Linked DNA regions of Homo sapiens. The protein of the gene in region 2 interacts with the protein of the main gene of each other region in a biochemical or structural test. Each region holds a gene or a part of one and is shown on either strand. Other genes may lie near its edges. The genes, in order: PPP1R9B and ADRA2A.

What was found.
Region 1: the proteins of ADRA2A (region 2) and PPP1R9B form a complex in vitro, tested with the Homo sapiens proteins (one study listed by BioGRID).

What each region holds. Positions count from the first base shown.
Region 1 is NC_000017.11:50,133,678-50,140,677, forward strand, and holds the end of PPP1R9B (neurabin-2), read right to left. Parts: intron 6,552-7,000; coding exon 6,416-6,551; intron 5,905-6,415; coding exon 5,752-5,904; intron 5,640-5,751; coding exon 5,586-5,639; intron 2,521-5,585; coding exon 2,291-2,520; intron 1,973-2,290; coding exon 1,876-1,972; intron 1,708-1,875; coding exon 1,654-1,707; 3' UTR 60-1,653; downstream 1-59. UniProt on the Homo sapiens protein: Seems to act as a scaffold protein in multiple signaling pathways. Modulates excitatory synaptic transmission and dendritic spine morphology. Binds to actin filaments (F-actin) and shows cross-linking activity. Binds along the sides of the F-actin.
Region 2 is NC_000010.11:111,069,326-111,084,922, reverse strand, and holds ADRA2A (alpha-2A adrenergic receptor), read right to left. Parts: upstream 7,895-15,597; 5' UTR 6,927-7,894; coding exon 5,529-6,926; 3' UTR 4,016-5,528; downstream 1-4,015. UniProt on the Homo sapiens protein: Alpha-2 adrenergic receptors mediate the catecholamine-induced inhibition of adenylate cyclase through the action of G proteins.

The DNA.
Region 1 (7,000 bases), on a different chromosome or scaffold from region 2:
GCATCCTTGATCCCTGCCCACTCCCCACCTCAGTGAATCAAGAAACCAGGCAGCAAGGCTCTGGGGGCTGCTTTTATGGGGACGACCTGACAGAGGGCATGGTCCGTACAAAACCGGGAACAATACATACATATATATATTATATACAGAGATGCGGCCCTCCCGACGGCTGGGCAGGGGTGGCCGCTGGCCCAAGCAGCCCGAAGCGGCCCCGCCCACCCGGTTCCGCCCCCTCCATCTGCCGGGGTGAAGTGCGCGAGCCCAGGACTGAGACAGCCAGCTCCTTCAGGGGATGGGGGCACATCTGGGGATAGGAAGGGGTGGGGACAAGAAATACTGATCGAAGTCATGGTCTATTTACAGGGGACAAGAAGCCAAAACGGATGGGATGGGTGGTCTGTTTTTAAAAAATGAACAAAAACCCAGTTAGGGCAGGGGCATGAAGTGGCAAAATGAGATGGATTTTGAAAGGGGAGGGGACCTGGGGGAGGTGGTCTCACCTCCCTTGGTCCAAGCCCCAATTTGGGGTTAAAGTGGGGAAACAGAGTCGATTTCACTTAGAAGGCAGGCTGCCAGCAGGGCAGCCCTGGTCTCCAAAAAGATGAGTAGTAGTAAAATTTTGCCCTCCAGTCAAAACATTGGAAAACCAGTAGGGGGTGGGGGCGAGGCTGACTCCCTGCAATGTCAGTAGGCTTCCAGGCATCGCCCTGGGCTGGGCAGACAGGGCAGCACAGGATAGGACCTGACTCTCCAGGGAGAAATGTTCCCCTTGCCTAAGACCAGGGTCGCTGTAGCCAGACCCCCTTTCCTCCCTGGCATTCCCAGGCTTGACCAGGAAACCTGGACCCCAGAGAGGCCACATAACAGTTCCAAGACGAGGTTATGGCTATTTGGCACCTGGAAGAGGGGAGGCACAAGGAGAAATTGAGGGCTGCTGCCCCAGGCAATGGGGAGCTGGGGACCAGGTGTCCTGAACTCTCCCTTTTTCCCACTCTCACTCCCCCTTTTCCCGAAGGACACATGAGAAATCAGTGCAGGGCCAGGGCCAGGCCCAGCCTCCGGGCTCTGGGGTGGACTCTATCCCTCCCAGGACAGGGAACAGGGATGGGGGAGGTGTTGAGGCAACGCCCCCACCCCCCAGGCGGGAGGGTCAGAATGCAACAGAGACGGCACAATGATGGGGGGAGAGGGAAGGGCCGAGAAGGTAGAATCTCAAGTCAAGAGGCCCAGGGGCCACCCAGGTGCCCCATGGGCAGGGAGCAGCCCCCAGTTGGCAGATGCTGGGAGAGCCCCAGCCCCGTTCCAGTCCAGAGACAAAAGCTGGAGTGTGTAAAGTCTGGCAGTTTGATCTGCAGGTGCTTGTGTCCGTCGACCACCAGGCCAGCCCTCGGCAGCCCTCGGCCTCTGTGCCTCAGCCCCATGGGGCAAGAAAGAGGCTGCCCTTCTAGCCACCTCTGTCTGCCCAGGCCATCTTAAGGGGGCCTGTGATATGAGCCCTCTGGTCCCTGAAGCTGGGGGAGGTGGGGTGGAGGGGTGGGGGGAGTCGGGGCACCTGTCCCCAGGCTGGAAGGGGGAGGGGTGGGGTGTTGAGGACAGGGGAGGGAGGACAATGGGAGGGGGGTTAATTATTGTCCAGTCATGGAATGATTCCTGTTAAGTAGAATTGGAATTCCTCAGTGTTTGCAAGTTTCCTTCCAGTTCTGAGATCTGGAAAACAAAGGAGGGTAGGGGGTCAGGTCTGGACACCAGGCATGATCCCAGCCCCTTCCGCCCCCCGGTGAGGACATGGCATCCCCTCCCTCCAGGACCCACAGGGTAGGGGCTTCAATGCTGCTCCCTCCACTGGGCCCTGCCCACAGGGCGCCCCAGGCCCACCTTGTCCAGGAGCTTGTCCATCTCCTCCTTTCTGGCCAGCTCCGACTCCTCCAGAACCCGACGCTGTGCAGTCTCCTTTTTCAGGAACTCGATCTCCCTGGGCACAGGCAAGGGACAGATGGCAGGTAAGGGTGTGTGGTCTGGCTTTCATCCAGGGTGACCCAGGTCCTCAGCTTTACCTGGGCAACTCTGTCCTTCCCTGTTCTCAGGTCAGGAGGCCCCAGGTTTTCCCAAAGCCTCTGGGGGTCTGGCTCTGTGCTGGCTCTGATGCCTGGTCATTCCGGACCGGGTGTCCCCACCATGGGGCCCTCCAACTTCTGTGCCTCCCTACTCAGCTGGAGGGATGGGGAGGGACTGTCCCCAAAAGCCTCTCAATGCTCCCTGGGCCCAGCCCGCCCAGCCCCCAGCCACGTACTTCTGCTGGTAGTCCTTGATGAGGCGCTTGGCCTTGCTGTACTTGCGCTCCAGGGCCTGGTACTGCGCCTGAGTCTCCCGCAGGTGCTCGTCCACAGCCTGGCACAGGCTCTGGGCCTCACCCCAGTAGCCTTCCAGTTTCTCCATGCGCTCCTTGTTCTCCTCCACACTCTGCTCCAACTGCGCCTTCTCCACCCGCCAGCGCCCCTTCTCCTGCTCCAGGCTCTGCAGCTGAGAGAGAAAGGCACGGCCCTGGGTTGGTGGGGGCCAGCAGGAGCCAAAGGGTACCCCCATCCTAGCACTGGGGCCAGAGTCGCCAGGGGATTCCTACCGTTGTGGAGTCCATTGCACCCCAACTACTAACCCTCTTTGGCTGAGCCTGAGAACTGAAACCCAGAGAGGAAAGAAGTAGAGCTCAGCCTCAGAGCTCCCACCAGACTCCCTGTCACTGCACCCCACTCGCAGGGAGGCTGGAGGCTTCGGTTAGTCACTGATACTCTGACTTGGCGCAATGCAACTAATGTCCCAAGCCTCAGTTATCCCATCTGTAAAATGGCAGTGATATGTGCCTCCCAATCTCACAAAAGCTCCAGTGAGACAGTACATGTGAAGTAAAAGGGCAGATGAGGGTCACCATTACTCTCTGTCCCCTCTCTGCAGCCCCAGCCCTGCTCGCCAGTCTCTGCACTTGTGGCTTCCTGAACAATCCTGGTTCTCTCCCAGCTTCCAGGTGACCCCAGCGCAGACCTCCAGTCCCCCACAGCTCAGTTCCGGATCCTCTGTTCTCTCTATACTCACTGCCCTGGGGCACCGGCCCATCTCCCACACTACCTCTGTGCACTCTGAGCTGCAAATCTCAAGTCCCAGCCCACCCTTGCTCCCAACTCCCAGCTTTAGCTCCCAGCTCCTCCCAGGTACCATGCCCCAGACCAGGCCCCCGCAGCTGCACAAACCTATGCCTCCTTTCCTGACTTGCTCTGTTAAAAGGCGCCACAACCTCATAGCCATGTTGGCACTCAGTCTCAGGCCAGTATTTGCTGCAAACATCCCTTGCTCTCTGTCCCCCAGCCACACAGGCCTTCCTGCAGATCCTCAGACTTGCCACAGGGCCTTTACGTGTGCTGTCCCCTCTGCCTGGAATGTCCCCCATCTACCCTCCTGCTTGCCTAGTTATTTCCCTCTAGCTCACCCTTCAGCTCTCTGCTGTGTGTCACTTCTCCAAAAAAGCCCCCACAGCTCCCTCCAACAGCACAGCCCTACTCCCACCTCCACCCGAATCAGGTTCCTCCTGCTTTAGCAGCTCAGTAAGCCTGTTCTCTCCTACAGAGCCCCATGCCAGCGTGTGATGATGACACAGTCACTGGTTTGCAGATGCACAAGAACAACGATCAACTATGGCTTTGCCCATCATGGTGATGAGAACAATACTGGACATCTAGAAGGTACCCAGAGGATGTCTGTAAGTAGAATGCACTAACAGACCTTTGGCGTGCCCCTCCCTTTCATACTCTGCATACACCTCAGGAACATGGCCTGTCACTCTGACCCCGGAAATGCAGCGCTCACCTACCCTTCCTTTCCAGACCCTCTGCCTATACTCTGAGCAGTCCTGGCCTACCCCTGCCAGGACACTGTCTGGGCCCCTAACCAGTTTGCCTGCCTCCCAGCACTGCCCACTTTCATGCCCTCCCACTTTGTAGGCAGTGGCTTTCCGAAAAATCCCAATGGCCACATACCCCATGCTATCTGTAGGACCAAGGCCAGAGTCTTTAGAGGGGAGGCAGGATACTGCAAGCCAGAGCCCATCCTGGCAGTCCAGCCCTGCCTCCACCTCTCCCCGACAGGCATGCTGCCACCTCCTGACTGGCCTCCCCTCAAAGCCAGACTCCAAGCTCCATGGAGCTCCTCTCCCTGCCAGGAATGCCCCTGCTTCTGCCCCAGCCATCCAAACCCTGGCCTCCTCTCCTGCATACCCCCATGTGGGAGGGTACACACACTCCCATGTCTGCAAGACCCCTATAGATCTGTCTCTCCCCACCACGGCAGAAGCCCCATAGGTACTGGGACTCCTATAGTCTAGGTCCCAGCAGAGGCCCCATACAGACTTTTAATATGAAGTCTGTATATCTGCATGCCTGTGAGGGTGCTGGCACCTGACATGCTTGTGTAAGCATCTGTGTATACTACGTGTGTGTGTGTGTGTGTGTGTGTGTGTGTGTGTGTGTGTGTGCCACGTGTCTCCATCTGGGGTCGGCATCAGCACCTCTGTGTTACTTGCCCAGATGAGAATATGCATGCCCTGTGACACTCTTCCTAGACCAGGTGGTCTGATCGATGGCCATGCCTGTGTGTTTCAGAGCAGATGGGTGCAGAGTGGGTCTGCATATCCAGGCTGATAGCCTCGAGTGTAATGTGAAGCACAGGTCCATTGTCTCTGTGACTGTGTCTGTGTAGAGTGGGTGTCTCTATGTGTCTGGGTGAGGGGGTCTGTGGGTACTATGTGCCTGGGGCCAGGCTGCTGTGTCAGTGTGTGTACTTCTGGGTGGTCTGTACTTATCAATGGGCCTATATATAGCAGACATATGTGGGACAGCACAAACATAGAGACACCTAGAGCAGAACTTAGCATGCTTCGGTATCACAGCTAATATACTGACTTTTTTTTCTTTTGACACATGGTCTCATTCTGTTACTCAGGCTGGAGTGGAGTGCAGTGGCACAATCACGGCTCACTGCAGCCTCGACCTACCCTGGCCCAAATGATCGTCCCACCTCAGCCACCCAAGTAGCTGGGATCACTGGTGTGCGCTACCACACCTGGCTAATTTTTGTATTGTTTGTAGAGATAGGTTTTCGCCATGTTGCCCAGGCTGGTCTCTAACTCCTGGCTGAAGCAGTCTGCCTTGGCCTCCCAAAGTGCTGAGATTACAGGCATGAGCCACTGCGCTCAGCCTACTTTGACTTTTTATTGAGCTCCTATTATGTCACACATTGTGCTAAAGACTTGACGTGTGTTATCTCATTTAATCCCACAACGATCCTGTGGTGTTGGTGCTATTACGACCTCATTTTATAGATGAGGAGGCTGAGGCACAGAGAAGCAAGTGATGCTGGAGCAGATGGATCCAGAGCTTAAGCTCTTAATATCGTATCTATCATATCATCTTGCTTTAGAGCAGCTTGTTCTGTGGGTACCTGTGCCTAAGTGTCAGCATGTGCAGGTGTGAGGGTAGGGGGACCCTGCTCCTCAACACACACATGCACGCACGCAAAAGCACACACATACGCACCCTTACCTTTCTTTTCAGCTGCTGGATCTCTGCCTCAGTGACCGCATGCTTGATCTGGAGCTGTTGGGCAGAGGGGCAGGCACTCAGCTCCAGCAGGGTGGGGCAGGCAGTGCCAAGGGCAGGAGACCTGCCTGCCTTTCCCTCCACCACTCCAGGGAGCCCCTCCTCCCACCTCCTTGAACTTGTGCACCAGCTTCTCGGGCTCCATGTCCACAGGGGACAGTGCATCCTCGTTCTCCGCTAGCTCAAACACCTCGATGGCCATCTCACCACCCGGGAACGTGGGGCTCAGCTCCTCATCCTCGTCAGTGGCATACTCTCCCGTCTGCGAAGGGAGACCGGAGACTGTGGGCCCACCCCACCCAGCTGCCCTCAGCCCTGATGACCAGGGCTGGGACCAGTTGCCCATGCCAGACAGAGAGCTACCCAGGAATGTGGTTCATGCCTCCCACTTCAGCCTGAGGCTGGACCAGAGACACGGTTTATGTCTTCCCCCAACAGCCTGGTAGTCCCCTGATGACAGAGGGGGTCAGTTCCTCATCAGCCTGGGTCTCTGAAGAAACAGCCTGTACTATCTTTCCCCTTCTGGATCTATCTCCCTTTCAGATTAGGTCCCCCAAGATTAGGGGCTATGCTCTCCCCGCAGACTGGGGGCTCTTTGAGAGGACTGTGTATTCCTTGTCCGGCCTCTGAAGACAAAGAGTGTGACTGGAGGACAGGGAATGGCACTGTGGGCTTTTTACTAGGGCAGGGGAAGCAGTAGAGGCAGATGACTGTAATGCTTCATCTAGCCACCAGGGGGCGACCACGCGGCCAGCCAGGCAGGGACTCCCTACCTCCTCGTCATCCTCCCCATACTGGGCGTATCTCTGCTCCATCATCTCCCGCTGCCATCGCTCCTGTTCCAAAGTCTGCTGAATTAGCTGGGCCACTTCGCTCTGCTCTCCCGGCCGCTCCCGGCCAATCATAAACCTGCAGGGGCACCGGCATCATCCGCTGCCTCTGTCCTCAGCCAGGTAATGCATCATCCTCCCTGCTGATGCTCCCCTCTCCAAACTCAGGCCCTCCCAGGGGAGGAGAGATGAGAGGGCTGAGTCCGAAGGCTGCAGTGTTAATAATGAATGGGGGAATGAGGGCCCTTATCAGGTTTCCTTCCCAAGGGAGGCAGGAAGGCCCATTCACCCCTCTGGCCAGTATTGCGGGAGGGAGAATGTCAGCCCACCTCTAGGCTGTGCTGCAGGGGACATGCACTGAGGAGGCTCTTCCCCTGCCACAGGGGAGAAAATGAGGCAGGGAAAGGTGAAGATGACCCTCCCAGCAGGGATGGGCTGCGGAGGTGTTTCTTGGGTATGCTCCAAGCCCCTGAGCTTCAGGAAGGGGCGGGATGATGGCAACTGGAGATTAGGATGGAGAGGAAATAG
Region 2 (15,597 bases):
GTTTACACGCACACAGAGATACATACACACTCACACACCCATACACGCTCACATGTTACACACACATACACATAGGCTTAGCCTATGTTTGGAAAACACACCAAACCCTCACTTCTACCCCAGCCTCAATAAGGCCAATGGCCGTTAGCGCCAGATCTCCCTACAGAGAGCACATGGCTTGGCCCTGTCCAGTGTGCCTCACCCATGGCCTGGACAGAAGGAGAGAGCAGACCGGCATTTCATAGAATTATAAAATGGATCATCAGAAAAGCCCCGTGAGATCCCTTAACCCAGTATTACCCAACAAGAGTTCCAGCAAACATGAGTCTCTGAGATGCTCTGTTAAAAAAAAAAAAAAAAATGAAATTCCACAGTCCAGGGAGTTTGGGAAACAGCACACCACGTCATCCTCTCTCAGACAATCGGAAACCACATAGGCACATTAAAGGCTCTGAGAGATCCTGAAGGAGATGTACCTATTAAAGACTGCTTACCCCAGCATTTCACCAGATAGGTGGCAGACAGGGAAGAGATGATACGTAGGTGACAGACAGTAGAGACAGATAGAATGATAATGTCAATAGATAATGTAGATAATATAGATTTTGTAGTTGAATTAACTGCACAGAACACACTGTTAAATAATATTAGACCAACCACTTGCATTTCATAAATGAAGAAGCAGGGACTCAGAGAGGGATTTGCTCAAGACCACATCGCTGGTAAAAGACAAAACTGGGCCTAGAACGCAGGCCTCCTAATCCTCAGTCTAGGCTATTTCCAACAGACCCTGTTCTATTTTTTTTGTATTTAACTAACTCTAAGCCCCAGGATTTCTGGTAATCAAATAGATCAATGCTATTTCCAAAACAAATCTGAGTGTTAGTGATTTTGCTCCGTGACTTGACGTGGCCTCCCTTTCGCGCGTGCCCTCTGCTAAGGAAGGTGCCCCTTCCTGCACCCTGGACTCTCAGGCCCACTGTGAGGGGTGGCAGGGCCCAGGGCAGAGGCCAAAGGGCTAACCTGGCACTGGGCTCTGGACCTCGGTACCTGGATCCTATTATGCTACTGAGTCAAGGACGTAGACTTCCTTACAGGTGTCCCCAAATGGGGACAGGACCTTGTCATGCCATCCCCAAGATGAGGTTGGATGAAAGCTGAGGTCTGACTTGGGCCTAGGTGCCACTGCCCAGGCCTGGCACTGGTCCCACAGGACTCAGCTGCTAGAACCAGAGCTTCCTTCGCGGGCCTAGCCTTCTCAGAGTGTGGACATCCCAACTCCCACATTCTATGCCCTGAGCTCCCAGCCACAGCCACCTCTCCCCCACTGCTCACTCACAGTACAGATGCCTATTACCCTTGGTGGGCACACAGCATCCTCTCCCCCACTGCCACACTGTCACTGTGTGTGGCTAATGAGTGCTTTTCACAGGAACATCCTGTCTCCCCATGTAGCTCCAAAGCTTCCAGAGGGCAGAGGCAGGCCCTAATCTCACTCCACAGGGACAAGTGGTGAGCTTTGCACAGTGCATGCAGGGAAGGAAGAGAACTGCCTTGCAATGCCTAGGATGGTCCTTGACACAAAGCAGGCACAGGGGATCCTCTGGGGTTGATTAGCAACTCACCACATCCCAAAACAAAATAGAATTCATGTTGGGTGCATATGGCATCAGACGGAGAGTCACATGGAAGAGTGGGCTCAGGGGCTCCTGGAATGCTACATAACCAACAGCTTTTCTAGGTCTCAGGTCCCTTGATCTGCCACTACAAGGTAAGAGTTAAGGATTGATGAGGATGCTTCTGGCTCTAAATCTCTGATTTGATTATACAGTCATAGACAGGGGAAAGCCCAAGCCACGTTTTCATCATTCTCTCCCCCAGCCTTTTAGCATAGAAGAAATTGAACAAAGCCTTGGGGAGGAGGAGACTGTGCTTGTGCCCAGGCTCAAATGAAGGCACTACCCTTCCCCCAACCCAGCACACTTGCACGAGTAAATCTAGCAAGACACACTTCAGACCCAAAAGCCAATGGCTTTCAATATCCCAACCAAAGTTACATAAAACAGGAGATTCGGCCACGAAGACAGACCCTCTTGGCCCAGATACTCGGGAACAGATACTATGCACAGGAAAATGTGGGGTTAGCTCTTTAAGCCAAGATCCCTGTGGGAGCCATTTCACCTTAATTTCCCTCCCCACCCCACACCTTGGCAGACTGTTGCTTGAGCCCTTTGCAAATGAATAAACAGTGATTCCTACTGTGAACTCAGAAACCCACCCATGCCTGGGCTCCAGCCCTCTCTCCCCCACTTTCTGCAACCTCCATCCACCTCTGAGGTTTCTCTGCTTCTGTATCGAGGAGGAGGGAGCATGACACCAGAGGCCCCTCCGTGTAGCACCTCAGCCCATGCTTCTTCCCCCTCGGCGGGTGGAGGCAAGGCAAACACTTCCCTGACAGACAGGACAGAGCTGAGAGTCAACAGCAAGCAGTATTTGTATCTGCTCCTGTGGCTGGGACACACAGCCTGGGTCCTGGGGGCTCGCCAGGCAGGCTGTTGTCTGGCACTGTTTGCCTTTGGGGCAATGGGTACACTGGAGTGAGGAGGGAGAGGAGAGGCTGGGGTGAGGGTGGGATGGGGAGCAGGCCACAGAACCAGACCAGGGAGCCAGCCGTGGCACCACAGGCCAGGAGGCTGTTTTCTGAAGCCTCTGAGCCAGGGTCACTGGAGCCCAGCACCTGGCCATCCTCCTGTGTGCCGGCTCAGAGGATCCAGGTGACGGCAGGAACTCCTCACCCCCTCAGAGCCATGGTCTTCCCTCTCCCAGGCCCCTCAGTGCCCAGATCATTTCTCAGGGCTCTCTACCCTCCCACTGCTGCATACACAGACACCCTCTCCTGCACGAGAGAAGCAAAGGAAGATGAGGAGATGCTGCATGGCCCAGAGGGTGCAGAGGACCTGCTTCTGGGGGGTGTCCAAAGCTGGTCCGCACATATTACAGGTGACTGGGCTCACAAAAGCTGGCCTCCCCCAAAACCACAACCTGACGCTTGTGTTTGCCCCTCAAACCCCCCTCCTCCATAAGTGGCTATTCATCAGTACTGCATCTGACTACACACACAGAACTACTACTACACATCTCTCAGCTGCGCCCTAACCCGGGCAGCCTGGAGCCAGAGCCCTGTCACCTAGCGCCTTGGGATCCTGAGCAAGTCGCTTCCTCTTGCATCTGCATTTGCCTTCTCATCTGTCAGATGAGGGGTTGGACTCCTGGATCACTAAGGCCCCTTCCAGCTTCAAAGTGCCATTACCATAGTATGAGGGCCATAAGCCCTCCTAGACAGCAGAGCAGACTTTGATATTATAGCAATGCAACAAGAAGGATGCATGCCTTCTGGCCAGAGACAACTCAAACCACCAACTAATACATGGTTCTATTCAGGTTTTAGACCATACTTAGTGCATAACCACACTATGGAGTATATGCTACATGTCATATATTATCATGCTTTAAGGTGTGATATACATTTTGGAGTATATTCCACACTTGGTGCATATACCACACTTTGGAGTAGATACACACTTTGAGGTATATAGACACATTAGGTCATGTAGACACTGGGGTATGTATACACCTTGTGTATATTAAATACTGGGATATATCTCACACCTGGTATAGATAGCACACTGCATAGACACCTCTCCACTGGGAGTGTTCTGAGAAGGGCTAATGCCAAAACTCTGGAAAGGTTCTGGGGTTAAGAGTGCAGGCCCTAGAACCAGATAAAGCTGGGTACGATGCATTTCCACCACTTGTTAACCTTGAGCAAGGTTAACAAACTTGCTCTGAGACTCAGTTTCTTCACCTGTAAAATGGGGATAGTAATAAAACTTACCTCATAGCGTTCTTGAGAAAAGTAAACGAGGCAATGCCTACAACCAGTTCACCACAGTGTCTAGCATGTCAGAAACACTTAGTAAATGGTAGCTTTGTTACTGATGGAACGTTTAAAAAATTTTTATAATGTACATTTTTTATTTTTAAAAAATCCATAAAATCAGATGTTCCCAGAGTCTTAAAGCTTTTGAAAACTCAGATAACAGACAAGAGGACCACTCCATTCATATTTATTTCACATTTGATCTGTAAACTTTTTTATTTAAAAAAAAATCCACTGTCATTAGCAACATGTGCTGACATTAGTTTTTCTTTAGTGAAATAAGAGTGCAGGCCTTAAATTGTCTCTGTCTAAAACATGTAGAAATGCAGATGTAAACACAAAGTCTCTGCCCTCCTCCCCTGACTTTGGCAGTTCATCAATGACATGATCTCAACCAGAAAAGCACGGAGGGGGGAAAGGACAACATTTTGATACCTAACAGCTCTTGGGGAAGAAACTGTACAGTTTGGCAGGCCCATTTGTCTTTTCAAACTGTTTACCTTGGGCAAATTGTATCAGGTTTGCTTCTTCCACATAATTTCCACTCCTTGGAGTCTAAAAACAGCAGCTAAAAGATTTCCCCATAGTCAGCACTTTCGGGGCAGGAGGGGCACACAGACATACAAGATAGAAACATACATATTCTTCTTCAAGCAGTGGCCCTGGAGGGAGAGAGGGAACACTGGAAAGAGAGGTTTTAAAGTGAGTTACTGGGGCAAACAGTGCATCAGAGAATAATGGCTTTATACACAGGGCTGATGTGAGGCAGAAAGGCTCATTTACTTATGTCTTGATCCACCATCATAATATTTACATAGGAAAAGGCAATTATGCTGTTAGGCACAGGAAAAAAATGGACAGAAATCTTTTCCCTGTCAGGAAATCTCAAAGCAGGTCCGTGTCGAAGGGACAGTCACCAGTTGCTGGTGAAAACGACGACATAGAGGGACTTCATAACACCAGAAAGGGCTTGCATTGCAAAGGGGCTTGGCCTGAACCAGACAGCTGTGTCTGCCTGGAAGGCATCTCTCCCAAGGCCAGGATTTCAACATCAAAACCAAGGCCAAGAGATATGGGGGCCCCATGTGTGCTATCAAAAATAGTGTATATTTACAGCGGGGGATGGGGAGGGCAGGCAGGGCTGCCCTTAGCATTTTTCTTTAAAAAGAGAGAGAGAGTTGGGAATGGAAGGGGAATTAGCCAGGGCTAGGTAACCCCCATCCATTAACCTTTTGTGAGCCATGCCCTTGTAGTCCAGTGCTTGCTCTGAAGAGCTGTGAGGGCTGTACCAGGCGAAGAGGGTGAAAATACCTTTAGGAAGCAATAGTGATTAGGGGTGGCCCACTAGGAAGATGGCTCCAGGTCAAGAGTGGCCAAACCAACAACTGGGGATGTGTGGGCCTGGCAGCAAGAAGCTTCCCTTGTAGGAGCAGCAGACGCCCGCCCGCAGGAGGCTGCAGAGCCACCCCAGACGAGGAAACGCAGAGCAGGCAGCGCCCGGGTTTCTGAGTGCCCTGGGGCTAAGCACCCCTCGATGCCCCCCGCTGCCTGCAGTCAGCGTGAGTCTACGCGGGCGCCAGCGGAAACCTCACACGATCCGCTTCCTGTCCCCCCGACAGAGGATCTTCTTGAAGGCGCGGCGGAAATCGTGGTTGAAGATGGTGTAGATGACCGGGTTCAACGAGCTGTTGCAGTAGCCGAACCAGAAGAAGAATTTGAAGAGCGTGCGTGGCACGGAGCACCCGACGGCCGTGAGCGTGTAGGTGAAGAAGAAGGGGAACCAGCACACCACGAACACTCCGATGACCACGGCCAGCACGAACGTGAAGCGCTTCTCGCGGTTCTGCCGCCCGCGCCAGCGCGACGCCTTGGCAGCCCCGACGCGCTCCTCCCCCGGCCCTGCAGCCGGCGTCCCGATCCCCGTCGCCCCCGGCCCGCGCCGCGGCAGGCTGTCGCCCGGCTTCACCTGGCTCGCTCGGGCCTTGCCTTTGCCCCGGGGACCGCGCTCGGGTCTGCGGGGCCCTGGAGGCCGCTCGGCGTGGTCGGAAGACGAGCTCTCCTCCAGGTCCAGCGCGTCGGTGTCGCGCGGCCCGGCCGGCGCGGGCTCGCCAGGGGCGCCGTTGAGCTGGGTGGGCAGCGGTTCGGCCTCTGCGCCCCCCGGGCCCGCGCTGCGCTCGGGGCCCAGACCGTTGGGCCTGCGCTCGGTGCCCCCCGGCGGCGCGGCGACGGCGTCCGGACCCCGGCGGCTGGGTGGCACGCGGGTGCGACGCTTGGCGATCTGGTAGATGCGCACGTAGACCAGGATCATGATGAGGCAGGGAGCGAAGAAGGAGCCGATGCACGACGAGATGACGTACCACTTCTGGTCGTTGATCTCGCAGCGCGGCTCGGCCGGCTGCGGGCCGCCGCCGCCGCCCTTCTTCTCGATGGAGATGAGCGGCGGGAAGGAGATGACGGCCGAGATGACCCACACGGTGATGATGATGGCCTTGATGCGGCGCGGCGTGCGCTTCAGGTTGTACTCGATGGCCTGTGTGATGGACCAGTAGCGGTCCAGGCTGATGGCGCACAGGTGCACGATGGACGACGTGCAGAAGAGCACGTCGAGCGCCAGGTAGATCTCGCACCAAGCCTTGCCGAAGTACCAGTAGCCCATGACCTCGTTGGCCAGCGAGAAAGGGATGACGAGCGTGGCCACCAGGATGTCGGCCGAGGCCAGAGACACCAGGAAGAGGTTTTGGGGCGCCTTGAGCGCGCGGCTCGTGAACACGGCGATGATGACGAGCACGTTGCCGAACACGGTGAGCAGCATGAGCAGGCCGGCCAGGCACACCAGCGTCAGCGTCACCTGCAGGGAGTAAGGGGTGGCCCGGGCGCCGCCCCCCGGCGCCTCGGTCCCGTTCCAGCTCGCGTTGCCCGCGTCCGGCTGCAGGGAGCCCATGGGCGCAAAGCTGCCCTCGGCCAACGGCTGCTCCTGGCGGAACATGAACGCGGGCGCCCGCTGGCCTGGGCCTGCTGCCAGCTGCCTTCCGGCCCGGCGCCCGTGGGTCCTCCTCTTCCTCCGGCGCCCCGCTCGCCTGGCTGCGGCTCACATAGGGAGGGGGCCGCAGGGAGGCCGGGCCCGAACTGGAGGACCGCTAGCGGCCCATGGCCCGGGTCCCGCGAACTGCGCCTGGCTCGCGCTTCAGACGCTCTCGGTGGGCGCCTTCTTGCTCCGAGCTCCTAATACAGCCAAGTTTTATTTCTAAGCGGCGGGAGAGAGTAGGGAGAGCCGATGGGTAAAGAGAGATTTATTCTTCAAGAAGGGAGAACAAAAATCATCGGTGGCCTGATAACTTGGAAGGATGACAGGAAATTAAATATATATATACATATCAATATCTGTATCTTGAATCTTGAGCCTGAGCGAAAGCAAGAGGTCTTACCGTGTGCGGGGCCCGCCCCCACCCCGGGAGGCAGCCGAAGGGTGCTGATGCGAGCTCGGGGGTCCTATGTCTGTCGCCTTACATCCCCGAAGCGATTACCGACTCTCTGGCTTCCCCCAGACGCTGCGGTTCTGGCCCGGCCCGGCCCGGGGCTGGGGCGCGGACTCTGCCGCCTCTCGGAGCGCCGCGAGACTTCCAAAGTTGTGCGCCCTGCTGGGGCTGGGGCACACTGTGCGGAGCTCCGGGACGGCGGCGGCGGCGGGGTGAGGAGTGTGGGGGCCGCATGAAGGCACCCCCGTCCTCAGGCGGGCCGGGGCAGGTGAACGATCAGCTCTCCAGGAGCCGCGACGGAGGCAGGGGTTCTCCTGGGCGTCCGCCTGGTGGGCGCCGAGCGCTGCTGGATGGGCCGGGGTCCGACGACAGCGCGAGTTGGGGCAGGAGCGCAAGGCGGGGAAGAAGGCGCTGGAGTGGCCGGGCGGCGGCACGCCGGCTGCTGGGCTTCTGCACCGAGCTGGAGCTGCTGCTGCTCCGCTGCGCTCACGGTGGACTCGTTTTATAGCCCCAGGATCAAGCAAGCGTTGCTGAGCAGCCGGCGTCAGCCCCCACGTGGGAAGCCGACCCTCCCCCGCCCCTCGCACCACCCCTCCGCCAGTCTAGCGCCCGCGCCTAGCGCTGGACCTCGGGGAGCGTTGCCCTCAGGCGGGACGAGCCCTTTGGAGAGGCGGGTACCTTGAGCTAGAGACTTAAAGAGGGAGCCCGGGGGTGGGGGGTAGGGGAGGAGCGGCCCCTGCTGGGAGTTGGCCATGCAGCTCCGGGCCGACGGAGCAGAACGCAACGGGCACCCGTGAGTGCCCCCAAGAAGCTGGATCTTGGGAGAAAAGGGAAGAAAAAAATGGAAGGGAATCCCCGCCCAAATCGAGGGAAGTAACCTCCGGTGTGAGTTACGTCTGGAGCAGCCCAGCTCCGGGCCAGAGCCGACGCGGTCCGCAGGTGCTCCTGGAGGCTGGGGAGAAAGGGGTCCTGGAGAGGGAGGAAGGCGCGGCTTCGGATGGAACCCCTGGGGCGGAATGGACAGCACCCACGGGGAAGTGGTACAAGCCGGAGTTCAGACCTCCGCTTAGGGAAGAAGCGGCTACGTGTCCTCCCAGCCGCGATGCTGTCTGCGGGAAACGCAAGACCCGGGGTCTGGACCGCGCCCCCTTAGACCGAGGTGGGGAGGGGTCCAGGAGCCGAGCGCCAGGGCAAAGCGAGGACGCACTGACACCTGCTGGCCGCTCGTGGTCACGGCTGAGAAGCGACCCGCTGACGCCAGGCGCCTCCTCCCGTCTCTTAGGTCTTCTGCCAACAGAGCCTTCTCCTATCTCCGAACAAATTGGTTTCTAAGCTCAGGAAAGGAGAACCCAGAGTTTGAATTGCACCCTGCCGTGTTGCAGAAATCTTCCTAAAGCAGATACTCGTGTGTCTACCCCTGGCGGGAGTGGGGGTTTGTCTAATAAAGTCACATCAGGAAGGGCTCAGCAGGCACCGCCGGCCAGAACGGGCATCCCACTCTGGACCCGCACAGCCCACCCTTCCTGCAGATCCGAGAGAGGCCAGGATCCTGCCTCCTTGGTTGCACAGCTCTGGCTTGCTGGGAATCATTATGTTTTTGTTGAGGACCGAAAGCTAGACTCCACTCCCGCCCCGCATCCCACCCCCATTCAGATGTACACACAGCATCCTTCAATAAGGGGAAGAGGGAGTAGAATATTTTCCATGTTCTCTCTGATAAGAATAGCGGTGGGGGCGGGGGGGAGTGGGTGTGCGGCGAATGGCAAGTTTTTCCGTGCGTGCTAGCTGTCCTAGGATAGATTTTAACGGTCACTAGAGCACTAGCTTGCACCCTGCTAGCTGCACTTTTCAGATGAGAGCAAGCAGTTTAATGGTAAAACCCAAGAGGGTAGGAAATTTCAGCAGGAGAGAGATTAGACTTAAAGGAATGTCGTCTTATTTAAGGAACCACTAAACCAAAATGCCTTGTGCAGTCACCTAAGTTGGAATTCCAAGGATGGAACAGGCTGCCTCTCTGTGCAGCCAGCTGCAGGCTTAGGTCTGGCTGGGGGCTGATGGCTAAATTAAGGGCCCTGAGAATCACCTTCATTCCCAGCTGATGTCTATAGCCCGCACCAGTGATACAGTTATTGGTGCTGCTGCTGTTCATGTAGTCTCAAAATCTGTACTTTCCAAAGTATTTCACAGAAGTCTCATTTGACTTCAGTACCTTTGTCTCCCAATCTTTGCCCTAATGGTATAAACTCCCTTTCCAGTGTTAGTTCTGAGGAGCCTTTCTAATCTCCCTTTCTGGACAATCTAAAGGAAGCTGAGAAGACAATTTCCTCGCTCTGTTGAGTCACTCATTTTCCATCTTCTACTAAAGTCTCTGCTCTGAGGCTCTTGGCAGGGGCTTTGGACATCGCCAGTAGGCTCAGTTGGAAACATGGCTACAGTCATTTTTGCACAGCAACTAGGAACCCCACACTTCAAGTATGAATACTAAGAGACAAAAATCAGAGCCCGTGGCAATCTGGGGTTTGCTGTGTTGCTGTTTGTAGAACTCGGGAACTGAGTCTTAGGAGACCATCACTTACCATCTGCACCCCAGCTTCCAACACACTGCTCTTCTTCCTAATTTCAGAATCAAAAGAGGAAATAAAAACAAAGTTTACAGTAATTATCTTTCTTGAAATTTCTGCTGCTAGCCTGTGTATGACACCTCTTGTCATATTTTCTAAATGCTTCCCAAACAGCCAGGTGGTTTCTTAATTCCCTGATTTGGAGTCTTTTCTCCTAAAATGGGAACAGGTCTTTTCAGAGCCAGGAACCCTGAGGCCAATACACAACGAATACCAATAATAACAAGTGCTGCATTTTATTAAGTACCATGATGTATGCACCATGTGTAGGGTGATATACATGGCCCCTTTATACACAGAGTTCTTATTCCTGTCACATGTTCCTTATCACCAAAGGTTCTGCCTCCTCAGTTTGTCACACAGGGTCAGTATCTCTGAGCTTTGAAAAGCTATGTGGACACCATTAATTTTTGCTAGAAGATTTCATGCTGTGCAAGCTGAGTGAGACATTGCTGAGCAGAAAGATATCCACAAATATAATAATTCTCAACCAGGCCTATAGATCAGCATTTCCTAGGAAGACAAAATACACTTACCAATGCCCCACCAGGGAAATTATTCACCAGGTCCAAGGTGGGATGCAGCATGTGTATTTTGACAAAACTCCTTGAGAGCTGCAGGTGTGCACACCCTGCTGAAGACTTACCACCCAAAGCAATAAATCTCAGTGGGGGACAGGAGTGATGAGCAAGTGCCCTTGTGGGGACAGGAGGCAGTGTCCAAATTACCCGGGGTAGGAAGCCAACTTGAGCTAGAAAGAGTGGGCCCCAGATTGAGAATCACTGCCCTGAGCCAGTGAGACTGCTATGACAGTGTCATAGCCCTCCAGGGAGCTGGGACAGAGCAAATAGTTGAGAGCCACTGTAAATATGGAGTTTGGGTTTGATGGCCTGAGAAGGAGTCATTTCTGGGGACCCAAATGGGGGTCCATTATTACTTATATTATTACTAAAAATAAATAGTACCTATTAGCACCAACCACATGCTAGGCACAATGCCAAGCAGTTTATGTACTATATATTATATAATTCCCAAAACAATCCCATAATGTAGATTTTATTATCTGCCTTTGTAGATGGAGGAAACTAGGCAACAGACTAAGTAAACTGTCCAGCTAATAAGTGGCAAGGACAGAGCCGAACTCTATTTTTCCTGGTGGTAAGCCCAATGAGCTTTCTAAGTTCCTTACTGTGAATCTCCAGCCTTGATCGCACTGCCAAAGAGAAACCTGCAAAATGTTCATCAGAAATGAGCACATTGACAAGTTAGCACATCCTCCTTCTAGCCCTGTCCTTTCAGTCCATTGATGTCTACTAGATTAGGACAGTACAAGGCAAGATGTATTCCCTCTTTCTGTATCTAATGCCCACTCTTGGAGGCAACGTCACATACACTCTAGGAGACTGACCATTCCCCAACAGCCAAGCTGATGGAGAGCAAGCACTACACCAACTGGTTAGGCAACCCCTCCTCCTCCTAGTAGAAGCAACCTCTCTCTCTCATGGGTGCCATACATATTTTATCATGGCTTAGATGGACTTTTCTTGCTCTAGCTTATCTATTCATTTGTATGATGATCTAGCAGGTAGAAAGGACTGTCCTTTTCATCTCTATTCCTAGAGCATCTCTAAAACAGGCTTTTTAAAAATCATATTTCTAGTACCTACTCCTTGGAGATTCTGATTCAGTAGGATGAAGGCGGGGCCTGGGTGTTTGCATTTTTAACAAGTGCATGAGTAATTCAATAAATACCAAAATATAACACACAGAGCATGGATACTTGATAAATGTGTGATGGATGAATGTATGAATGAATGAATTCTACTTACACTGAAGCTATCAAAGAGGCAAGAGGGGCCCAGAAGTTGGTGAAGTTGGTGACTACGATGGCTAGCATTTTATTCCAAAATCAGGATTTCTTAATAGTTGAGGTAGCTTAACTAGTTCAAGGATATAAGTATAGGATTCTCTCATTCTCTTTTTTCCTAAAAGGAATATGTAAGTAGAGGAAGATAAATTTATAACTATCAGCTAGGTAATTTGCCAATAAAAGAAAGCTTCTTAAGATAAATCATCTGTCCTCATGTTATATCTGAAACTAAAGTATCAGGCAATACCAAAATTTGTCTTGGCTTCTATGTCTTTGATGGTGACTTCATCTAACAAAAGTGAGGGAGCTGGCTGGGAGAGAATATTAATTGCTTACTTTTTGAAAAAAAAAGACTTGACTGTCTAAGAAAAAGAAAACATGACTCATTTAGCCTGGACTCCTAGGCTGTGACAAAATCCTCACAGATAGAAGCAATTTGGTCACACACACACATAAACACAGGCCACCCCCCCACCCACCCACCCCTGCCCCCACCACAGCCTGAACTTAAACACACACTTGCTAGTCTGAACATGATGAACAGGTGGGGAATGCAATGTTCCCGCTACTACTCATGCCGTGTGCACAGCTGGAACCAAATGCTGCAGTAAGCTACAATCATCTGTCAACTCACTGTATTGCTGACAAGGGGAAGGGGGGAGTCAATAGGGAAAACTCTATTGCTTCCTCTAAGCTATTACTTAATTCCTCCACTTCTTTGTACCTGTGCTGAAGCCCTTGGGAATCCCATCGTTATTGAAGGTTAATGGAAGCCAAAAGAAAAGCATCAACTCCAGGGGTGCTGTAAGGAGCTGCCTTATTCACCACCTACCATGTTCATCATTTGACTGCTGGATCAGTCTTGCTGTATTCACAAAAACAAGCGATGAGTCCTGCCATCGCCTTTATCTCTTTCTAACGTGCTAACCCATCCTGCCCCAGCCTGGAAAATTAAGCCAGGTGTTTTCTATCTCTGCAAGGGCTTCTGGCCAATACCAAAAAGACAGCACTTGGTACTAGGATCAACTCAACCTTGAGGATGCCAAGAAAGATTGGGCTCCCAGCTGGCTCTTCGCTGGTGTGCCACCCTGCAGGGCATGTTTGTGTTGCCACTACAATGTGACTTTTGAGAGCTTGTGTGTACACACAAAGTTTAACATCACCTACCACAGTCTTCCAAGTCAGTCCTCACAAAGCAGTGACCTTTTCCACCACATCCAGGTGAATTATCTTGTCTGCTTTGTCCAGAAGCATGAGCAAAAGCAAACCTTGAAACAGTTATGGTGAGCAATGCTTACTTGTTCTCAGGTATAACAGGTGAGCTAGAGCCACTGGGTATGAAGGAGATATTTGTCACCAACATTAATAACTCTTAAGCTAATATTCCATTAATCTAATTAGGTAAGGTAAATCACCTTTCACATTTACTCAAAGAAACCATGGAGACGCCACGCCTGAAGCATATACACCCATGCACACACACACACACACACACACACACATGCACACAGACATATTTAAGAGATGGTCTGGCTCTCACTGCTCCCTGGAAATGATCTTTTTTTCCCCATTTTTCCTAATTGATAACACAAAGCACAAACTCTTCCTTGGTAAAAGGACCACGGCCTGATAGTTTCTGGGAGGCATTCAAGTGAAGTCGTTAAGAATTTAGGCTTTAGAGTAAGAGAAACCTGAGTTCTGGTCCTGCTTCTGCCATTTCATAACTATATTTACTTAACTTCTCTAGACTTCAGTTTCCTCATATGGAAAAAGGGGAAATAATTTCACATATCTCATGCATATCCTCAAAGATTAAATGTGTGAATACATGGAAAATACATAAGACAGTGTTGGGTTTAATTGGTGCTCAGACCAGCCTGGCCAACACGGTGAAACCCTTTCTCTACTAAAAATACAAAAATTAGCTGGGAAAGGTGGCGTGTGCCTGTAATCCCAGCTACTCAAGAGGCTGAGGCGGGAGGATTACTTGAACCTGGGAGGCGAAGGTTGCAGTGAGCCAAGATTGCACCACTGCACTCCAGCCTGGGCAACAGAGCAAGACTCTGTCTCAAAAAAATAAATAAAATAAAAAATAAAAAAATAAATCTAGAGAAAGAGAAGAGAGTTGGAATCTCAAAGCTGATGGAAGCTTGAATAGGATAAAGAGGTGAATGGTTTTTTAGGGTGATTTCTTCTGCAATTCGAGCCAACCCAAAGTGCCTAAAATATAACAGAAAATGGATTGATTCACATAAATGAAATTTATTTTAACCTGAGGCAGAGCTGGCTTTGGGCAAGATGGATGCAGTAACTCAGTACTGTCACTAAGAAGCTGATAACTTTGTGGAGAAAGAGGATTAAGCAAATAGAGAGTAATAAATGTAAGGAATCATGCAAGCCTCCCCACCAAAAAAAAAAAATTATATATATATATATGTATGTATGGGAAAGAAGCTGCCTTGGTTTCTCCTAGCACTCCAAATTCCAAATGTTGTTGCTAGGAAGTTGAGATGAACCTCTTGCTTCTTTTTCTTGGATTCCATGAGATTTCAGAGCCCACACAACTACTTCCCCTTTTACTTCAGCCTCTTGGAGTTGTTTTCTATTTTGTGCAACCAGAATATTTGACCAGAATGAATGCTAGAGCCTTAACTTCATAAAAATAGTTTTCATCTTCAATACGCCAGATTCCATGCTAGACAATGATCATATAATCATCAAAACATAACTTCCAATAACTTCTATACACTGCAAAGTCTTTGAGAGGAATCTTTTCTGTTAGTGTTACATATATTCAAAAAAATTAAATAACAGTTTTGATTTTAAGCACCAAATATTTTCAGTTGATGATGGCACTCTAAGTTTATGCTTCTTCTTTTCTTAGAGATGGAGACTTGCTATGTGGCCCAGGCTGGCCTCAAACTCCTGGGCCTCAAGCAATCCTCCCAGGTAGCTGGGTCTACAGGCCTACGCCACTGTGCGTGGCTTAAACTCAAGACTTTGAAGCACCCCTTTGTCCAATCATGTAGAAATGAAAGATAAACAAAAGAAATTTTAAAAGATAGACCCACTCCCGATGCCAAGCAAGATGGAGCAAGTCTATTACAGCCTCTCGGTCCAACTAAACAGCACAACTAAAACATCTGGAAAATTCAAAAAGCAGCTATCTGAAAGGCAGACAGTAACAGGGAGAGTGGAAAGGGAAAACAAAAATTGAGGAAGAAAGCCTCATGAGAGAGTTTCCTATTGATTTTTTTCCTCTTTTGTCTCTCACGTTTGATCCACGGAAGGCCTCAGTTGTGGAACTGAGCACCCCAGCCGGTATGAGCAACTCAGAGGGTGAAGCTCCCTCTTTTGACAGAGAATGGTGGAGAGGTCCACTGTGAGCTAGGAAATGTGGAGAAACTCTCTGAACATTTTTTCTTATTTGTCTTGTTTTTACTCTCCTCACCCTGCCACTAGAGTGGCCCCAAATAGGGAAATGTGCAGTAGCCGTATAGGCAGCTACAACTTTGAGGAGGAAAAAAAAGGTCTTTTCTGGCAGTAGGAACAGGGAAAGAAAGACCCTGTGCTCTAAAGGGCAGAGCCGGGGAGGGATTTCAGGACTCTTACTGTCTTTTTTTTTGCTCTTTTACCTTACCACTCTGCCCAGGGACTGAATCAGTCATGCAGAACTGGTGGCAGGATCAT